2 separate regions of the Homo sapiens genome follow, and region 2 is linked to region 1. Evidence: fine-mapped expression QTL. Tissue or cell type: cerebral cortex. Region 1 holds a variant in brackets; the other region holds the start of a gene. All regions are shown on one strand. Distances are between the middles of the regions.

Region 1 (8,105 bases):
AATGCGTGCCTACTACCAATCACATGAATGCTTTACATATGGTATTTAAATTCACACACCAGCTGGGGAGGTAGGTACCTTTCCTCCAGTTATATAGCTAAAAAAACAAAACAAAACAAACTGAACAGAAAGTGAGCACTTACCTAAGGTTAGGCAGTTTTTATGTGGGAGAGCTGCAATTTAAATGGGTGTCTCTTTACCAATACCCACGTGCTTATGGCTACCACTGGCTGCCTGATAACCTAATGTAACTTACGGTGTGTGCTGTGCTGATGGCTAAAACAATGGCAGCTGCAGTTGAGATCAAGAAGGATGTGCCAGAAATCTGCCCCGAACACATGCGAGAGGAGGAAGGCCAGACTCAGAGCGGAGCATCTGACCCAGGTGCAAGCTCTCCTCATTCTGCTCACCTCTGCTAACCACCTGTGTCATAGATTCTTCCCAAGTCTAGGAGCATGGGAAGCAGGGAAAGATCAATCAGGAGGTTATAGGACGGCTTTCCAAGGATGAGAATAAATCCTGTAGTGCCTTGCTTACCCTGAAGAGTAGGGCTCTGCAAGGCAGGCCCTCTCAACATCTCTTAATGGAAAAGCAGCATTTTAGCTCAAGACAGCGTCCTAGCAGACAAAGGCTTAAGGCATAGCCTATCTAAAGAGTTACTTAACAAATTCCAAAATAATAGCAAAATGGTCTCCATAAAACTAAATGACTTCCAGGGAAGAAAGCGCATATTCCACTCTAGTACTTGTTGCCTTAATTAGGAACAGATTCTGATGACTGGGATTTATTTTCCTAAGCACACATCCACAAAAGCCAGAAACATCTTGTCATGCTGCAGCATCCCTGACATTTCTCAAAGATGAATTCCTAATTGGGTTTTAAAAAAAGCAACCAGAAATTTTCATGCTGGTTTTGATTCAGGATTCAAAACAGAACCTAAGACGTGCATTTCTATATTATTCCAAACCATGTATAAACCGCCTTAAAATCCTTAAGACCCCCCTCAAACACTAAAGTTTAAAAAAGGGAAAAACAGACTAAGGAATGAATTCTGAATTTAATATAGTAAAGAAGATTCTTCTCTTATGGAACATGAAAACTCTCCTGTGATCTCTCCAAGACACTTTTAAACATCTTAATCTACTTACTTTTTAAAAGACAAGATGAGGGCTGGCACCTGCTCTTTCACTGATGGGGTTCAAAAGGCTTTTTTGTGTCTTTCTTTGTTAATTTATTAGAGAAACTGGCCAGCCTTTTTCATCGATTTAACTAAATTCTGTTATAATAAAGAATCTAGATGTGCTACGGAGTCTGAAATACAGAAATTATTATCCTTACCTGCACAGTTTATTCTTAAGTGTTTCCATGTACTTCATAGTATTTTCCTTCACACTTGTTTCTGGGGGAAAAAAAGGAAATCCAAAGTTAATGCAACTGCAGTCACAATTGAATAAAAACCATTCAACTAAAAGCTCAAAGCCAAAGGATTGAGGTCAAGCCACTAGTAATCGTAACATTCTATGTTTGGAAAACACTCAAATCCACTGGAGTGGCTGCCTGAAGTCATGAGTTGGGGAGGATTCCGGGGCTCTGAGTGTCTCTGCAGGAGAAAGTCAGAGGCTGGAGCAATAGCGCTGAGCCAGCCTTGCTGTAGTCTTTAAAAAGCAGCTCACTGATAGTCTATCACTGGATGACATGTGCTCTATCTCTTACCTTTCCCAACTGATAGCCATTGGCTCGGTTGTCCAATACAGGGAAAGAGAACCTGACAGTGTAATGATTCCCATCCTACAGATGAACCAGAAGAGCCACACTAGGGGTAGAGGAGGATTGTGGAACCTTTCATTGAGAAATAAACATAAACATGGGATTCTGCCAGTAACTAGAAATCAACTGCTCAACATCCAATGAGTGATGAGATCAGCTACTCTTTGAGATAAACTCAGCGCTTCCTAATTACCAAATGTTGAAGGAATGAATGATTGCTATGGTTCAGCAGATCAAAGAGGCACTTTACGGATAAAAGAGATTTGATATACTTTGAACAAGTTCTCCCCTTTTGCTCATCCGAGGAATGAAGGTGCCTTCCTCTCAAGATAATAACTAACAGACGTGCACACCAAGTGCCTGGAAGAACACCTGCAGCCAAGGGGTTTCTAGCAAATGGTGGCTGGAATTATCAATGGTGCTGCCATGTCTATTACTAGTATTATTATTGTTATTGTGGGTTTTATCATTGTTTTTATTACAACCTTTATTCTGAAGGGTTATTTATGCTGAAGGGCTCATGTACTCTAAAGTTGGAGAATGTGGAAACACAGAAGCCAGGCTGCCCAGATTCATGCTACTGGAGTGTCTGGGGATTCTTAGACTTCTATTTCAGTCAACGTGTATGTGTAAGGTGAGGGACTGTGGAACTGGAAAAAGTACCCTGCCATTCCTCATAAAGAAACTAAATATTTAGATGGAAATTAAAACAATTAAACATTCTGGTTCATTAGTCCATAAAAGATAAAAAGAGACATTTACACAATGAAAACAACTGTTTAAGTTGGTATCTTTTTTTATTGACTTATGCTGGTCTAACACACAAACTTAGTTGTGCTAGCTGGAGCAATTATTGCAAATTCCAAATGCCCAAACCAGAAACGCCCTCTCTGTTTCACATCCCATACATATTTATGTGCCACACACTGTTCTAGGCATGTGAGATAGCTCAGTGGACAGAAGAGGTAAAGATTCCTGCTTCTGTAGTGCTTCCATTCTGGCAGCAAGGGATGCTAAAGAATAAACATAAAAATTCCATAAAACATTAGAAGGTGGTAATGACAATAAGGATTTAAGGGGAAAAAAAAAGACAGCAAGTGAAAAGGGGCTGTAGAGTGGTCAGGGAAGGCATCACTGGGGAAATGACACTCCATAAAAGTTTGCGGAGGGAGGGAAGAGGGCATCAACAGGCATCTTGTGAATGGAGTAGGCAGTCTGAAGGCCCCAGGGCAGAAGCACATCTGCATGCTCTAGCAAGTGTGGCCGGAGCCAAATGTTCCATAGGGAGAAAAGATGAAGGCAGAGAAACAACCCAGGTCCAATCAAGCGGGCCACTGTGGTAGACTATAGTCTCAAAATGGCCACAGCAATATTTCTGGTACCACATACTCTTCCAGAACCTTGCCACTCCCTATCAAGAGGTAAAGACTATTTCCCTCTTCTTGAATGTGGACAGGCTGTGACTGCTCCAACCCACTGAGTATGATGGAAGGGATTCTATAACTCTTCTGAGGCTAGAGTCCAGTTTCTGCGTGGCTCTCTGTCCTGGGAACCCAGCCACCATTTTGTGAGGAAGCCCAAGCCACATGGAGAGGCCCTGTGTAGGTGTTTAAGCTGAAAACCTGGGTGATGGTCTTAGAATACATCCAGCACCAACCTCCAGATACCTGAGTGAATGAGCTTTCAGGTGGTTAGTGCCTCTGAGTCTGAGGGACCCAGACATCGCAGGATGGAGACAAGTCCCCCCCACTATACCCTGTCTGAATTCCTGACTCACAGAATTTTGCACATAATTAATGGTGATGTTAAGTCATTAAGTTTGGGGATGTTTTGTTGCACAGCTGTAGTAACTAGAAAGCCACTATCAGGATTTTGAGTGTTCTGAGTGGAATGGAAAAACACTGTAGAAGAAAAAAATGAGATTGACCTACAGCAACTATGTTGAGAATACACCATAAGGGAGGATGGGGTGGAAGCAGAAAGACATGGAGGAGGTTAGTGCAATCGTCCAGGAAAAGATGATGGAGATGTGGAGGAGGAAAAGTAGAATATTTTTTCTCACCCATCACCAGGGTCATGGCTGACACCCCTATAACAAAAGACAGGTTAACAAGAGAAAGGCATGACAAATTTATGTGACCAAAGTTTTATGTGATATAGGAGCCTTCAGAGATGAAGACCCCAAGACCCAGAGAAAACTGTCTATTTTTGTGCTTAGGTTCAATGAAGCATATGAAAAATGGACAGCTGTGTAGAAACGTGATTGGACAAAAACATGATCTAATGGTGATAAACTGGAGCTCAGCATGGCTGTTTGTTCAGAATCTCCTTGGCCTCTGTGTAGCATTCCTTCCCTCCACATTGGGGGGCAGGGCAACTGTCACATAAGGGTCTTATGCTCACCTTTCAGGGAAGGTAAGCAAGAGAGTCCTTTAAGATCAGCTCACACAGAAAGACAGCAGATGGTCAGAGTACCCTTTCTGCTTCTGCTGTTTTCTCAGTTTCCAAGGTGCTGTACTTTGTAGTATCATATTCTATGTCCCAATAGGGACTTAAACTAGTGCATTAGCAGGAGTTAGTGATAAGTGGGCAGATTTTAGATATATTTTAAAGGTAGAGACAATAGCTTTCCTGGTGGGTCAAATGCCAGGTGTAAGAAAAAGAAAAGTTGGCTGGGTGCGGTAGCTCACACCTGTAATCCCAGCACTTTGGGAGGCTGAGGTGGGCGGATCACCTGAGGTCTGGAGTTCAAGACCAGCCTGGCCAACATGGTGAAACCCCGTCTCTACTAAAAATAGAAAAATTGGCTGGGCGTGGTGGTGGGTGCCTGTAATCCCACCTAGTTGGGAGGCTGAGACAGAAGAATCCCTTGAACGTGGGAGGCGGAGGTTGCAGTGAGCCGAGATCGTGCCACTGCACTCCAGCCTGGGCAACAAAAAGCAAAACTCTGTTTCCAAAAAAAAAAAAAAAAAAGTCAAGAATGACTACAGATTTTTACCCTAAGCCACCAGAAAAAAAACAGAAATTGCCATCAACTGAGATGGGAAGAATGAGAAGTGAAATGGGTTTGGGGAGACAAGAATTTGGCTTTGGATTTGTTAAATTTCAGAAGTTTTTAGAAATTCAGTGGAGATGTCAAGTGTGAGGTTGGATATCTGAGTCTGGAGTTTGGGAAAGTTCTGGAACAGAGACATTTGGGATTGGCGTTTGAAGCAATGAGACTGGACAGTATCACTAAGGAAGTGGGAGTAACTTAAGAAGCCCTTGCTGATC[G/A]TACGCAACGCGCCATTTATATTGTGATAGCACCTTCTATCCGATGGACAAAAATGGACACACCACCTGAAGAAAAGAAAGCCATATTCTTATGTTTAAAAAGAATCTAGATGTCTATCAAGTTAATCACTTTGTTAAGAAACTGAATGCTAAGTATTTGCCTCATCTCAGTGTCTGAAGCACCAGTTGGTGACACGCTGGACCTGCACAAGAACTTCCAGGCAAAGCCATGGGCTTTTCTTCTTGCCTGGAGGCTGCCATCTAAGGAGAATGCTATGTTGAACTATTACTTTCTTTGGACCCAACTTATCTCCCAGCCAGACAGCCTAAAAGTACCTTGCATGTATTCACTAAGTTGACTCACAACCTTCAAGACAGGCCAAGACTGTAGACAGGGAGTTTAGATTTTAAACTTCCGAATCAATACAGCCACAGACACGCTGACGGAGAATAGAGCTCACCTTTTCCTCTCTTCTTACTCCCCTCCTCTTCCTTTCTTCCCTACCATTTTAGGTCCAGTAGAGCAGGGACCTATGAGAATGGCAATGGTAGTAAGGCAAGGTTCCAAGAAGCAAAGAGGGCGCTCAAAGAAATGCTGAATACAAAATGAAATGCTACGAAACAAACAAGACCAGAGGACTGCAGACCCCCTTCCTGATCAGGAAGAAGCAGGAACACATTCACTGTTTCTGTTTATTAAGGGAATCTGATATTCAGGTTCAGGCCATGATAACAGAGTGGAATTCATACAATTAGTTTGATGAATCCAATTAAACAAAAACTTGGATTAACAGATTGATAATTAAATGCCATAAATCAGTGAAAACAGTAGAGTGCATGAAACACACATCATGCTACAGGAGTTCAATCTGGGTCCTCCTTCATGCAAGACCATATACTTGGCACTAATTAAATAGAAAAAGGACACGGCTTCCAGGGACACAGAGATAGCTGTGGGACCAGCCTCTTTAACACTGATTTCTCACTGGAGTGCACAGCAACATTTTCCATAAATATTCATCATAACCAATAATCCAAAAATATCCCTATGAGTCTGATGGGAAAAAAAATAACCAAGCTACCCAGCAACAGCTTTTTCAGTGTAAACACGGAAGTTGGAAGGTAGAAGAATGTCAACACGGAAGGTAGGAGAATGTTAAGTGGGAGGAAGTCCAACGAGGTTTCAATGAATTGTATCCCTTGCATAAGGGGACAGCAGTATTTGACATGAAAATAGCATGGGAAATGAGTAACACCCAGGCAGACTTGCTATCAGATTGAATGGACCAGTGATTTGAAGAAACTCCAGCCCCACCACCCTCAATTAATAAGGAAGGCATCCTCAGACGGGATCAGTACGATACGATCTCACCTTTGAAAATGGAAGCCAAAGGGACCTCCCCAGTTTAGCATTAATGGCAAAGTTTGTCAAACATTAGCCACGTTATTGGAATTTTCTAAATTAACATTAAGTACCAAGTGAGACCTGGCCTACATTTATGAAAATAAGTCATCAGATTTCAAAGATCAATATTCAAGAATCAATTTAGATAAAATTAACTCCCACTTAGTAAAATCTTTCAGAAGGAAGATGTGAAAGACAAAGGAGAAATTTTAGAACTCTGAGAAATTTTCAAATATCTAAGGTATTATGCTGTCTTCGAGTGAATGAAAGAACCTTTGTTCGGATAATTAAATCATGCATGAGGATGAAGAGGTAACATAATCCTGAAAAGACCCAGGAAAGTCAGCAATACAGGAAAATGGACTTGCAGCTGGAATGTCTTGGCAGGTAGGATGGCATAAGATTGTGTAAGTCCTTGAAAGATGGTAGATTCTTTCCATGAAGTCCTACGTGAGTGAAATTTCACACTGAAGGGCAAAATGGAAATATCAACCATGAACCCCTAAAACCTAGAGAGTTTTGTCTGCTCATACGCAAATGATATTGACTGTCACATTGGAGACCCACTGTGGGGACACGCGTGATATCAATTTAGCTACCATTTTACTGAGCACTTTCTTTTGCAAGACCTGTTTTAAACACCTTATTCTAAACATGAACTAAATAATAGTATCAGTGAAGCAGCTCTACCATTATCACCATTTTACAGTTGGTTAAATGGAGCAGCAGTAAGGTTCAAAGTCACACTGCCAGTAAGGGATAGTTCCAGAGCTCATTGTTACAAAACACATGACTTCAACTTCATATAACATGACAGCAGTTAGTGCACATGAGATGTGAAATCTCAGCACCAACAAAATGAAGCAGGTGTTCAAAGACACTAAATTCAGGGGAGGCCAAAGGCTGTGCTGTAAAAAGTCAGAGTTACAAAGAGTACTGACCATTGCAAAGACCAGCCATCAATAAATGAAAATCTCATTGTTTGTAAAATGTAGGGAAGAACATTACTAGTATATCAGCATAAAATAAATCTACATTGTGTAAAATAAGTTTATATATATATATACATATATATATATATATATATATAAACATATATATATGAGAGACAATAGGCCAAGGTGATTTCAAAGTAGGTTGCAATGAGAAAATGATTAACAACTTTCTAAAGCATATATCTACATTGGCTCTTTCTCCCCAGTGAGAGGTTAATTGTGTGATTTTACTAAAAGATTTTGATTTGCATGTATAAATTTATTTATTTGCAGCATTTCAAATATAGCATTCTGCTATCACCTATCTGTGGTAGTTCTAGTTTAGCTAGAACTCTCAAGAGAGGATTTCTGAGTTCAACAGAGTTCAGTCCTTCCCAGGCTTTTGACTACTCAATATAAATTCTCTAGATCCAGAGCCAAATAAATGCATCATTACCAAACTAGCAAGGGATTCATTTCTCATTGTCAGGGCATCGTTCAGTATGTTGTTGTTAATTCTCTGTCTCTTTTTCTCTGATGTTGATAAGATGTTTACAGAGAGAAGGAAAATTAACAGATATGAGTCCTACTGATTTAATAAGTGGTAACAGGGAAAGGGTTTCTCTTTGGAGTTATACCTGACTGTCATTCATACATTCATCTAATGTTTTTTCTTTTTCTTTCTT
Region 2 (8,105 bases), 720 kb after region 1:
ATGCTATTTTCCTTAGCCACCACATTCAAATGGTTCCAAAGGATGATGATTTACTGTCCTAAATATCACATAAATTCATCAATTTCCCTTCTTCCTGGGCTCACTGTTACTGCTTCATTACTTCTCTGGATTACTGCAATAGCATTCTAACTGATCTCCACTTTTATGCATCAGATTCCCTACCCAACCTGATTCTCTTCCTACAGTCTCTACTTAGGCAAAACAGGTTACCTATACAGATAATCACACCAGAAACCTATAGTCTTCTCAGACTTTCAAAAATATAAATGTACTTTGGAAGGCCAAGGCAGGTGGATCACTTGAGACCGGGAGTTCGACACCAGCCTGGCCGACATGGTGAAACCCCGACTCTACTAAAAATACAAAAATTAGCCGGGTGTGGTGGCAGGCAACTGTAATCCCAGCTACTTGGGATGCTGAGACAGGAGAATCTCTTGAACCCTGGAGGTGGAGGTTGCAGTGAGCCAAGATTGTGCCATTACACTCCAGCCTGGGTGACAGAGTGAGACACCATGTCAAAAAAAAAATACATATACACACATATATTTATATATATATGTGTATACACACACACACACATAGATGTAAGATTAAAATCTCCCATAAAGTTAAGATTTTATCCCTAAGGATATGTAAACACGACACATAAAATTTCTTTAGGAAATATCTGCCTACTTCCTTACTTTGTTTCTCATGTCTCCTTTCTTCCACCCAAATCTAACTAATTCTAACCCCAAATATGCAAGGGAGTAGTTTTTTTTACATCAACATCTAGGACAGTTTTCCTCTCCCTCATCTGCCATTCACAGCTCAAAAACTCAGCTCATGCCAGGCACAGTGGCTCATGCCTGTAATTCCAGCACTTTGGGAGGTGAGTAGATCACTTGAGGTCAGGAGTTCAAGACCGGCCTGGCCAACACGGTGAGACCTTGTCTTTACTAAAAATACAAACATTAGCAGGGCGGGGTGGCGTGTGCCTAAAATCCCAGCTACTCGGGAGGCTGAGGCAGGAGAATCGCTTGAGCCCCGGAGATGGAGGTTGCAGTGAACCAAGATCGAGCCACTGTTCTCCAGCCTGGCAACAGAGCAAGGCTGTCTCCAAAACAAAACAAAAACAAAAACAAAAACAAAAAAGGAAGATCAGCTTAGATATCACCTTTTCTTAGAAACCTTCTCCAAGTTCCCAAACTGGTCAGGTGCCCCTTCTTGTCTCTCCCACAACACGCTGTGCATGCTTCAATCATTGCCCTTACCATACTTAACTGTGATTGTTTGTTTACTTTTATGACTTTTTGTGCCCTTAAAGGCAGAGCCTGCATCTGTAACTTCTATATCTTGGAAACTGAGAATAATGAGTAGGATACTGTATATATTCCTAATGTTTGCTGCAATCAGCAGTATCTTCTACGCTTCTAAAGTGCTACTTTTAGATCAGAATATTACACAATAACAGCGTAGCTGGGGAAATAAAAACAGCCTGAAGTACTAAGAAAAAGTAAGGTTACCGTGGAAGTAAAGGTTATCCAGTCACAAAACAGTAGTGAGAACTACCAGTAAAGAGTGGGTTGCTGTCCAGCATCAGAACTACAGAATGCTCAGATACAACTGCCATAGTTTTTCACATGAAAAAGTGGACTCAAGTCTTATTAAAGAACCGTTGGTAAAGGGGAAGTAAAACAAACAAACAAACAAACAAAACCAACTCCTTCCTTTAATGTACAAAAGGAAAATTCCAACCAATTCACAAACCAGTTGGGAGCTTAAAAAGCTACATGTTAAAAGCTGGATCTGCACAGCAACCCTCTTCCCTTCGTGCCTGCTCTGGAGTAGCAGAGTCAGAAAACAAAGTTGATATCCACCACAGAACTGTGGGGAAGATAAGATCAATGAAGAGATATATCTAAATAATAAGGCTTATAGGCAGTTAGCAATCAGAAACCGAAAGGTCTTGATAGAGAGGGAACAGAAGTTTCTCCATGTTCCAAAGAATATTGGTGTCTCAATTTGAAGGAACCCATATATTCTCTTTCAAAACTGGGGTGTTTATCTTGCTCTGCTGTGTTATCCCTGTTTTGACCTTTCTGCACAAATGAACACTACATTTAAGCCAAAATTGGACAGTAATCACCAGGATATGCTAATATGCTTTTAAAATGAATTCTTTCATTTTCTCCTAAAGTAGCTAAAAACTAATTTAGTGGTTAAAAACAACAAGAAACAAACAAAAACCAAACCAGTTGCCCCAGGTCTGTGCAATCCTGAAGGCTATAAAGCTCCCATCTCATAATTTCTTCATGAAAATCGTGGGTGACCAACATCTGCCAGCCAAAAAGACCCGTTAAAACCAAGAGAGGAAGAGGGGGTTGGAGGAAAAAAAGACAAGCGGGAGAGAAGCTGGGTGGCGCTGGCTGTCCTCCAAAATGATTTGTGGAAAAGGTACAATAATGACTGGAAGACAAGAACAGGCAATAAAAATGTCTAGAAGTTCTAAATTTTCCTGAAGTGTTTAAAACTCTATTCCCACATACAAGCCAAGTGCTCTACTCCCAGGAATATAACAGCAGCATAGGGCGGGGTGCGGAGCCACAGGCTATCTCAGGGCGGGTCAAACCCGCAAGTTTCTCAGGTTTGCCCAAAAGGTAGCTCGACATGCCCTCGCTAGAGATGGGGAGACTCCAATTCTCATTCCTCATTCTCGTGTCCAGGAGCTTTCTGAAGGCCCCAGGGCCTGATAGAAAGAAAGAGAAGGAAAAAGTGGAAAGGAACCAAAGGAACCATAATCCGTAGAAACTTCCAAAAGCATGCACACACAGACACACAGCGATACACTGTTGTCCTGGAAACCAATCCAACCAACTAACCCCTCCTCGGGAGCCTAGGGGCCAGCTCTTTTGGGCAAGGGTGGTGGGCCGGAGGAATAGGGACTGGGAGAAAGGGGTACTATTTCGCGCGGCTCCGCTCTGGGCCTCTTTTCCCTGGGCGCCTACCGAGTAGAGGAGCACGACAGCGCTGGGACTGGTTGGGCCAACGGAGAAATAAGAGTTAGATGAACTGGAAGACTCCATGGTGCGGCTGCCTTCCCGGGCGGGGTCTGGGATTCTTTGCTAAGCCGTGGTGGTGCTCCTGCTGGGGGCGGTTCTTTCGCTCAGGACGGCCCTACTTCGCCTAGGGCGGCGGCACCCTCTGCAGCCGCTACACAGGATCCCGGGCGCCGCCATCTCAGCCAGGACGGAAGCCGCGCAGGGCCCTGCAGCGCATGCGCGCAGTCGCGGAACCCGGAAGCGGGGGTGCAGCGCGGCAGAATGAGGGTTGATTCCTCGGCTGACCCCACAATGTCGCAGGAGCAAGGGCCGGGGTCCTCCACGCCTCCCAGTTCTCCGACACTTCTTGACGCTCTGCTCCAGAACCTTTACGACTTTGGTGAGTGCGGGGTCCCAGGAGCCCACGTGGAGAACAGATTTGAGGAACGTGGGTCTCCTGTGTTGCCCGTCCTGGGTTGGCCTCTGCTTTGAGGCTAAAGGTTCTTGCATGTCAAGCACCCTTCGTCCCACCTGGTTCCAGTAGCGAACACATTTCTCCATCGGAAGTCACCCCTCGACCGGGCTCTGCTGAGTTATTCATCAAACCTTCCAACTCGTCCCCAAGTGTGGGGACCATCCTACTTGCTTGTAGGAAGCACCAAGGCTTTCCGATTTAAAAGTAGCCCGCTTTTCCACGTTTTCTTGAGCCCTGGGAAGTCCCCTTTCCCCATGCCACCCCCAAGACCTGCCTGACCCTGGTGCGATGGTGTCATTTCGCTCTGGGGCCTCGGGCCTGTTGGATAATACACCAGCTTCATCCTTGTGTGTCCCTCTCCAGAGACATCATAGTCCTTGGCGAGTTGTCCTTTTCACGACTTTTTTTTTTTTAAACAAGTGCGCTGATCTTTTACTCTCCGTTCTTTGTCTTGATGGGGGAAAAGGAAAATAAAAGAGCCTATTAAAGTCGCATGGCATGTCAGTAGGAAGACAGTGCCTCATACTCTGAAGAGCTTTCCCGGGAGAAGGTGACACCCTTTGCACATGCACCAAAGAAAATCATTAGATTTCAGGACAACACACATTTCTTAAATTTACAGCGTGATATTTTAAAAGCTATTTTTATTTTGGAATGACTGCTCAAAATTCTAAGTTCACCTAAACAGTAGGAATAATAGTTAAAACTGTTGAGAACTTGCCATATAGCACATGCTTTTCGTGTATTTGCTCATTTAATTTTCAACTTCATGAAATAGACACTGTCATAAATCCATGATTGCAGATGTAGAAACAAGTACTAGAAGTTCATGAAACCTGATGCAGGTTGTCTGACTGGTAATTTTTGCAGAGCCTGGGTTCTGATTCTAGCCCCAGACCCCATGCTTGTATTAACTAGCATTTCTGTGCCCTTGGACATATTGGAGGACAGAGAAGACTTAGTCTCTGACCTTGAGAAGTTTAAAATCTAGAGGAAAAGACTATTCTGCAAAATAATATAGTTCATGTCAACACAGGCTGGAAATCATGGTAGGAGCTCTGAAGGCATTGAATGTGTCTATTCATTTTTATATCCTTAATGCCAAAGTTTAGTTGGCTCTTAAATGTTTATTGTATAAAAGATTAAGCAAATAGTAGCAAGCATAAATCAGCAGCTGGTAATTTAGAGAGCTCTGTGGTATTTGTAATACATGTGAGTAAGGATGCCTAGGATTCTGGTTAGAACTTTCAGGTGACTGGTCAGAGCTTCAACAAGTGAAATATAGAAAGAGGAATTAATAGAAAACAAAGGCATTCAAATTGAGCCAGTTGTCTTAGGTTCATCTTAATTCCTAACTGTGAAAGAAAATAGGAAGACTATTCCATGTTCCTGTAACCCAGAAAGTGTTAAAAAGAAACAGTGGCTGCAGTGCCTGATATTTTTAGTATAAAGCCAATTGGGATTACCAGCCCTGGGGACTATTGCTGTGATGACACTTTGAGTAGGAACCAAAGTGGAGACTAAAGTGATTGTGCTAATAAGGGTCAAAGACATAGTTACCTAGGAAAAGATGACTACATTTTGGATTCTCTGCATTTTGCAAATACACTTATTTGAAAGAAAACAAATAGTTTATTTCTTTGTGTGTGCTTCTAGGTGCATATAGCCCTGGAATATGTACAAATACATTCGTAGGATTTGATACTGATGATAGCTAAGACTGAAAATATTTATTTTCCTTCTTGTGTTTGAACAAACAGGAGGTACAGAAGGTGAAACAGAACAGAAGAAGATCATAAAGAAAAGGGAAAACAAGAAGAGAGATGTGATGGCTTCAGCGGCCTTGGCAGCAGAGCCATCTCCCCTACCTGGTTCTCTCATAAGAGGCCAGAGGAAGAGCGCTTCGAGCTTCTTCAAGGAACTTAGAGAAGAGCGGCATTGTGCTCCTTCTGGGACCCCCACAGGACCAGAGATCCTTGCTGCTGCAGTTCCTCCCTCTTCCCTAAAGAACAATAGGGAACAAGTAGAAGTGGTAGAATTTCACAGCAATAAAAAAAGAAAATTGACGCCAGATCATAACAAGAACACAAAGGTAATGAGTTGGTTAGCTTATATATACGTGGTGAACCCCCTGGTATTGTAGTATTAGGTGAATAGCTCTTTAGACTGTGGCAGGAATGCCTGACTATCCTCAGGCCTGCAGATTTGCCAAAAGGACTCACAGGACCCAAGACTCAGCATATAGCCCTTATCAGTCATGTAGGCCTACAGACTGACCTTAGTTATTCAAGTTCTAGACCTCCAGTGAAAAGCAGGTATTCACCATCAATCACATTGCTAGTATAAACTGTCTGGGAAAACTTGGTACAGCAGTGGCTCAAGACCTCAGGTATGCAAAAACACTCTGATCAGGCAGAATATTCTAATTGCTCAATTCTCAGGAGGCAGCCAACTGCCAGTCATGAAAATAGGACTTTCTTGGGAATGTGCAGGGTTTGGTAAACACAGGCCTGCTGAGTTAACTCTTACAGCAACTCTTTCTGGCATTCCTGTTATGTGCTAGCCACAGTTGTAGGCACTGGGATATAGCAGTGAACCAAATGTATAGAAATTCTTGCTCTCGAGGAAAAGCAATGCTGGTGGAAAAGCAATTTGATTTTTCTGAGCAGTAATCTTTTTCAGAGTGAGCTTGTAAATCTCACCTAAAATTCAGTCCCCAAGGGAGGTGTGGTTGCTCCTCCAAATGTTTTTAATTTTTTTTTTTTTTGAGACGGAGTCTCGTTCTGTTGCCCAGGCTGGAGTGCAGTGGCACGATCTTAGCTCATTGCAAGCTCCACCTCCCAGGTTCATGCCATTCTTCTGCCTCAGCCTCCCAAGTAACTGGGACTACAGGTGCCTGCCACCACGCCTGGCTAGTTTTTTGTATTTTTAGTAGAGTCAGGGTTTCACCATGTTAGCCAGGATGGTCTTGATCTCCCGACCTCGTGATCTGCCCGCCTTGGCTTCCCCAAATGCTGGGACTACAGGCGTGAGCCACTGCGCCTGGCCCCAAATGTTTTTAATTTATCTATTCACAAGAATATCATAATGGCTTTGACAAATTCATTGCTATTCCATTTCTGTAACATCCCCCACGTCCTGCAAACCTTTGTCTATCAACAAAGAAGTGAGGATTGAACGTATTAGTTTCTAAGCCTGCTATAACAAATTACCACAAACATGGTGACTTAAACCAACAGAAATGTATTCTCTTACAGTTCCGTAGTCCAGAAGTCCAAAATCAAAGTGTTGGCAGGGCCATGCTCCCTCTGAGGGCTTTGGGGGAGAATCCTTTGCCTCTGACCAGAAGGTAGCTCTAACAGTTTCCTTGGCTTGTGGTTGCATAACTATAATCTCTGCCTCCGTCTTAATGTGGTTTTCATCCCTGTGTCCCTGAGTCTCATGTTTCCCTCTGCCTTCCTCTTTGCTTTAGGCCCACCCTGAATCTGGGATGATCTCCTTTTGAGATGTTTAATTATAAAGATCCCTCTCCAAGTAAGATCACATTCACAGGTTCTGAAGAGGAGTAGGACATGGCCATATGTTTTTAGAGGCCACAATTCTACCCACTACGAAGATGGTTTGGCTTGCATTGTTCTTTATGAATGTATAAATGTATGTTAGTGTCCAGTGTTTGCCACATCTTTATGGTTTTAAAAACCATCTGTATAATCTTTTCTAAAATTCAGGTAGCATTTCATATCAAGCTTGCTGGCATCTCTTCCTCAAAGATCGTTAGCGCATTCTGCAGGCTGAGCGTGGTGGCTCACGCCAGTAATCCGAGCACTTTGGGATGCCAAGGCCAGAGGATTGCTTGACTTCAGGAAGTCGAGACTGCAGTGGGCTGTGATTGTGTCACTGCACTCCAGCGGGGGTGACAGAGCGAGACCCTTTCTCCAAAAAAAAAAAAAAAGATTATTAGTGAATCTGTAACCATGTCTACCTTTATTTTAGGATTCTAGATAAGCTTCTTAACTCTTATGTTCCAAATATAAGGCTCTGGGAACTGTTACGGGAGGGTCAAGAAATGGATTCCCTTGGTGTTTGGGGCAACCAGAGCCCCGAAGCTGGCCATCTCCCAGTACCCCAGTGTACCCTACAAATACTGGTATTTTCTGTATGTGTCATGATATGAAAAATGTTGGTGAGCACTGCTTTGCAATATAATTCAGCATTTGAAGACTTCAACTAACATAAAGCATTTAGGCACCCTTTCTTGTTTCTTCAAATGTCTCAGACTTCAGTTTCCTCTTATATTCCCTCATGTTCTTTTTTCTGGAATGGAAAGTTTTCTTTTTAATAGAAAAGACAGAAGAGTTGGGATTGAATGAGTCTGCATTTCCCTGTTGCTTAATAATAGAACATCTGTGGCAGTCTGTCAAATTGTCTTTTGCTTCCCGTTCCAAGCGAGCCCTGATGCATTCTAGTTGGCTCTTCTCAGGAGCCTCAGCTCACTCTACGTTTTGAACTTCCTGACCTTAATGAAAATTTTCATTTGTCATTGCTGCTCTCTGCCCTTTCCTCTTGTTTTTTTTTTAAATGTGTCCTTT

The links. PIP is the estimated chance that this variant, and not a neighbour inherited with it, causes the effect.
Region 2: GNPAT starts here. The variant in region 1 is fine-mapped to the expression of GNPAT in cerebral cortex (GTEx, PIP above 0.99).

What each region holds. Positions count from the first base shown.
Region 1 is chr1:231,952,122-231,960,226 of GRCh38, reverse strand. It overlaps DISC1 (DISC1 scaffold protein), which reads right to left. Exons shown (of 13, transcript NM_018662.3): 10 at 1,339-1,399. It overlaps TSNAX-DISC1 (TSNAX-DISC1 readthrough (NMD candidate)), which reads right to left. Exons shown (of 16, transcript NR_028393.1): 13 at 1,339-1,399. Among named protein-coding and RNA genes, the nearest start is that of DISC1-IT1, 30 kb to the right of the region's middle. The variant G/A (reference allele first, on the strand shown) is at 5,041.
Region 2 is chr1:231,236,360-231,244,464 of GRCh38, reverse strand. GNPAT (glyceronephosphate O-acyltransferase) reads right to left here and starts at 3,253. Exons shown (of 16, transcript NM_014236.4): 1 at 3,009-3,253. The coding sequence starts at 3,086. It overlaps FSAF1 (40S small subunit processome assembly factor 1), which reads left to right and starts at 3,290. Exons shown (of 7, transcript NM_152379.4): 1 at 3,290-3,441; 2 at 5,277-5,608. The coding sequence starts at 3,324. RefSeq lists enhancers at 2,351-3,240, 3,221-3,560.